Regions from separate parts of the Homo sapiens genome. Here region 2 is linked to region 1. Evidence: fine-mapped expression QTL. Tissue or cell type: whole blood. Region 1 holds a variant in brackets; the other region holds the start of a gene. All regions are shown on one strand. Distances are between the middles of the regions.

Region 1 (2,680 bases):
TTTTCCATCTGTGTATCTTTGGTGAAGTATCTGTTCAAATCCTTTGCTTATTTAAATATTATGTTGTTTGTCTTTTAAGAATGTCAAATAGCCGGGCACGGTGGCTCACGCCTGTAATCCCAGCACTTTGGGAGGCCAAGGTGGGCGGATCAGGAGGTCAGGAGATCAAGACCATCCTGGCTAACGAGGGGAAACCCCATCTCTACTAAAAATACAAAAAAAATAGTTGGGTGTGGTGGCGGGCGCCTGTAGTCCCAGCTACTCGGGAGGCTGAGGCAGGAGAATGGCGTGAACCCGGGAGGTGGAGCTTGCAGTGAGCAGAGATCGCCCCACTGCACTCCAGCCTGGGTGACAGAGTGAGACTCCATCTCAAAAAAAAAAAAAAAAAGAATGTCAAATAAATGGAATTATACAGCATATAACATTTTGAGACTGGCTTCTATTACTCAACCTAATGTCTCTGAGTTTGTACAAGTGGTTGTGTGTATCAACAGCTTGTTCCTTTTCACTGCTGGAATTACAGCAGTTGGTGTATCCATTTACCCTTTGAAGCACATTGGGTTGTTTCCAGTTTTTGGCTATTACAATTAAAACTGCTGTGAACCTTTGTGTACATGTTTTTATGTGAGCGTAAGGTTTAATTTCACTTGGGCAGATACCCAGGAGTGGGATTGCTGGACGATTTGGTAAGTATATGTTTACCTTATAAGAAACTGCCAAACCATTTTCCAGCATGGTTGTATTTTTCTCATTCCAACCAGCAGTGTATGAGTGTTCCAGTTCCTCGTCATTCTTGCCAACTCTTGGTGTTGCCAGGATTTTTAATTTTAGCATTTCTAACAGGGGCATAGTGATATCTCATTGTGGTTTTAATTTGCATTTTCCTAATGGCTAATTATATTGAACATCTTTTAATACATTCACTTGCTATCATTACATCCTTTTTGATGCTGTGTTTGTTCAAGTCCTTTGTCCATTTTTAATTGGGTTTGTTTACTTATTATTTAATTTTGAGAATTCTCAATAAATAAGTCCCTTCTAGAATGTGATTTGCATATATTTTCTCCAATTCTGTGGCTTGCTTTTCCATTCTGTTAACAGTCTTTTTCACTGAACAAAATTTTTTTTTTTTTTTTTTGAAACAGAGCTTCACTCTTGTTGCCCAGGCTGGAGCTCAATGGCGTGATCTTGGCTCACCACAACCTCCGCCTCCCAGGTTCAAGCAATTCTCCTGCCTCAGCCTCTGGAGTAGCTGGGGTTACAGGCATGCACCACCATGCCCAGTTAATTTTGTATTTTTAGTAGAGATGGGGTTTCTCCCTGTTGGTCAGGCTGGTCTCGAACTCCCGACCTCATCCGCCCGCCTCAGCCTCCCAAAGTGCTGGGATTACAGGCGTGAGCCACTGCGCCTGACCTACACTGAGCAAAAGTTTTAAATTTTGAAGTCAAATTCATTTTTTCTTTCATGGATAATGCTTTTGGTGTTATATCTAAGAAGTATTTCTTTACCCCAATATTATGAAAAATTTTCTC[TTG/G]TTTTCTTCTTAAAGTTTTACATTTTACATTTACAGCTATAATCCATTTTGGGTTAATTTTTTATAAGGTAGGAAGTTTAGGCTGAGAGTCTTCCTTTTTAAATTTTCTGATAGATGTCCAATTATCCCAACACCATTGAAAAAAAAAGACTACTCTTTCTCCATTAAATTGCCTTTGCATCTTTGTGGGAAAAAAAAGCAATTAGTCATATTTGTGGAGATCTATTTCCGGACATTCTATTGTGATCGATTTATCTGTGCTTCTAATCTTCACTAATGCCATAATGTTTTGATTACTATAGCTTTATAGTAAGTCTTAAAATTGAGTTATGTGAGTCTTTCAACTTTTTTTAATCTTCAAAATTGTGCTATTCTAGTTCCTTTGCTTTTCTACATAAATTTTAGAATCAGCTTGTCTCTTCTAAAATTCTGCTGGGATTTTGATTCAAATGACGTTTAATTTATGGACCAATTTGGGGAGTATTTAGCTATATTGAGTCTCCCAATCAATAGACATGATATATCTTTCTATTTGTGTCTTTTTATTTTGGTCATCAGCATTTTGTATATTTCAGAATATGTATTCTGCTCATGTTTTATTAGATATGTGTTTTATTAGATTAGATAAATCCAAGCATTATATTTTTGGAGCTATTGTAAATGATATTGTTTTTATAATTTTGGTTTCCAACAATTCATGGAAGTATATGGACCTATGATTAAATTTTGTATGTTAACCTTACATATTTTTTTTCTTTGAGCATGAAAATAAATCCTTATTTTAATCTTGCTAAGCTCACTTAGTTTTAGGGGCCTTTGGTGGAGTCTTTGAGATTTCCTATGTAGACAGTCACTGTGAATATGGACACTTTTATTTCTTTTCGAATGTGTATGGTTTTTATTTCTTTTTCATGCCTTGTTGCACTAAGACTTCCAGTACAATCTTGAGCAGGAGTGGTGAGAGTGGACCCATTGTCTTGTTCCCAATCATAAGAGCGAACATTTAGTTTATCACCATTAACAATTCTTTTACCTGCCAATTTTTTTTTTTTTTTTTTCGAGACGCAGTCTCGCTCTGTTGCCAGGCTGGAGTGCAGTGGCATGATCTTGGCTCACTGCAACCTCGGCCTCCTGGATTCAAGCAA
Region 2 (2,680 bases), 42 kb before region 1:
GGCTTGTGGGGTGGGAGCCAGAGTGGAGGTCGGTGAAATAAAGTGATGCAATTAGACCCCACCGGCTCCTGCTTCTAAAGAGCGCCGCCCCTCCCCCACCCCTGGGACCAACACTGTGGGCCCCTCCCCCACCCCGGCGGGACCAGATGGTCCCCCTGCCCTTTGTCCACCAGGCCAGATGGAGAGGAAGGGAGATTGGATTCCCCTCCCCACCCACACATACCCAGGTGCCAAGAGACTCAGCTGTGGGGGGAGGTGGAGGTCAGTGGGACCAGGCTGAGCCGATTATGGAGGAGTGGGGGGGAAGGAATAGTTGCTTCCCCGAGGGCGGGGGGTGCCCAGCGGACTTGAGAACAGTTCATCACCCCCACTAGTATCCCTTCCCCAGTAAAAGACTCAACGGAGCCCGTTCCTTGCGACCCTATCCCCAAAAGGAATTCCGGGGGTAGATTTGGGGTTATCACAGGATCGGGTGCACAGGGCCACACGGCTCTCAGGCCCCTCCTCCAGCCTGTCCTGCGCGGACGAGGGCCGGGCCATGCAGCTGTGGGTGGCCGAGGAGAGCGGGTCTTGGTGGGCGCAAGCCCGAGCGGAGGATGGCGCGCAGCGAGCAGAGCCGGGAGCTAGGCGGGGCGCAGGGTCCCAGCCGGAGCTCGGAGGGACGCGGGCCGGGAGCGAGGCGGAGCCGGGGCTGGCGGGGCCAAGGCGGGGATGGGGGTGCAGGGGGCTCGGCAGAGGCGCCGGGCGGGCGGCCCGGGCCGGAAGGACTGGCCTGGCGGGAGCGGAGGGGCTTGGAGCCGGGCGCAGCGCGGGCGGTGCGGGGAAGGCCGTGGCTGGGGACCGGGCTTCAGGCCGGACGCCCCTACCCCCAACCCGTGGGGCTCTGGGAGTGGCAGGGGAAGGGTCGCCCGAGCCCTCCAGGAAGCGGCCGCCGCTCGGGGCGCACCGCGGCGCGCGGGGCGGGGCGGGCGGCTGCGGCACTGGGGCGGCTGGGGCGGGCCCGCCGCTCTGTAATCGGATCCGGGGAGGGGGCGGGGAGGGGCCGGGCCGGGCGGGCCGGGGGGTGGGGGGGGGGCGCGGAGCCGGGCTCCGGGCCGGCCGGGCTCCGCGCCTGTCAAACCCCTCATTGTTCGCAGCTGATGTCACTCGCAGTTGTGAGCGGCCGCCTCTCCCGGGGACAATGTGGGACTGAGCGGCCCAGCCGCCGTGCCGCCGCCGCCGCCGCCGCAGGACAGCCCCAGCGAGGTAGGGCGCGGGCCGGGCGGGGCACGGCGGGCCGCGAAGTTTGGGGGTTCGCCCGGGGGCAGGGAGCCCGCGCCCAGATCCCTCGGTTGGGGTCGCAGGTTTGTGAGACTGCGAGGAACACGTTCTCTGTCCCACACCGCTGAGGCCTGCACAGGTGGGAGGCGCTGGTCTGCCAGAGGCGCCCTTGGCACCAGGGAGGGGCTTCCTGGACCTTAGATCCCAGATTTGAGGCCCCCATCCCACTCGCTGTTTCTGTCCTTTGCGCCTGCTCCTCTCTCTGACTCCTGCCCTGGGTTCTGGTTCTGCTCCATCTCTGCCCTCACTTGCCACTCCCCTGTAGCTCCTGGCTGGGCACACACTCCTTCCCATCCTCCGCAGTCGTTGGGGGAGCCAGATACAGACCTCCAGGCCAGGGGTGTATGGAGATGACAGCTGGGGGCTCAGAGTGGTCCCTCTTGCCCCATAGCTCTTCAGCCCTTCAGCTCTGACCTAGCTTCTTGGCTGGGGTCCTGGGGGGTGGGGGTGGGAGGCTCTGCTACTCACTTCAGCCTGGCCCTCATGCCTGCCTGGCCAGGAGAGGGAGGTGCCCGCCTCCTCTCTCCCCTATCCCTGGCCCGCCATCTTGAGACCTGTGGCACCCAGTGCCCCACCCGGCCCCAGCACCCAGGGGAGTGGTCTCCAAGGTGATGATGCACCCAGGGCCAGTTGCATTCCTTTCTCCCCACCAAGCCCAGGATGCTCATGTTCGTGCTGAACCAGCAGGACATGTGTCCCCAGGGGCTTGCCTTCCGCCACAAAGGCTCTTACAATCCATGAACTCCCTAGGAGCTGAGCTCCTGCCCTCCCTGTTCCCTGGGTCACCCTCATTGCCTCAGGACCAGTACCTGGGACCCTATTCTTTCCCCATCTGAAAAAATCCCCTGGTCTTCCCAGGTCCTGGAGCCCCCTCAACCTCCAGGGCACCCCCATCCCAGCCCCCACCCCCTAGCCTTCATCAGCATGCAGGCTCAGGCTGCCCAAACACAAGGGGATTGTTCTTCTTGCATGCTCAGGGTGGGGGGCTGGGAGCAGGCAGCCCACACACCCTGGCAGGCCCAGGCCACGAGGAGGCTGGCTTGCCCCACCCTGTGTCCCCAGACAGGCTGTCCACCCTCCCTACTCCCATCACTGCTGCCCCTCCAGCCTCCATCACCATTGCCCAGTGGCGCTGACATCTTGAGGAAAGAGCTCTGAGCTGCACAGGTAGACCCCTGGGTTCTCCAGCTCTGCCAGTTGTCTCCCATGTAGCCTTACAAACATTTCCCTTCCTCTCTGGGCCGCGAGCCCCTCTTGTGATTGGTAAGACCTTTCCAGCTGTGACAGGCTGAGCCCAACTCGACTCTGTGAAACGTACCCCACCCCCCAGCCCTTCTTCCAGTCCCCCTCTTCCATGAGG

The links. PIP is the estimated chance that this variant, and not a neighbour inherited with it, causes the effect.
Region 2: it holds the start of PCBP4, and the variant in region 1 is fine-mapped to the expression of PCBP4 in whole blood (TOPMed, PIP above 0.99).

The regions. Positions count from the first base shown.
Region 1 is chr3:51,924,323-51,927,002 of GRCh38, reverse strand. No RefSeq gene overlaps it. Among named protein-coding and RNA genes, the nearest start is that of RRP9, 16 kb to the left of the region's middle. The variant TTG/G (reference allele first, on the strand shown) is at 1,534.
Region 2 is chr3:51,965,891-51,968,570 of GRCh38, reverse strand. It overlaps PCBP4 (poly(rC) binding protein 4), which reads left to right and starts at 1,117. Exons shown (of 14, transcript NM_001174100.2): 1 at 1,117-1,245. It overlaps ABHD14B (abhydrolase domain containing 14B), which reads left to right. Exons shown (of 4, transcript NM_001146314.2): 4 at 1-56. RefSeq lists enhancers at 1-22, 23-586, 1,713-2,274, 2,275-2,680 and silencers at 548-627, 658-937, 948-1,057, 1,158-1,427.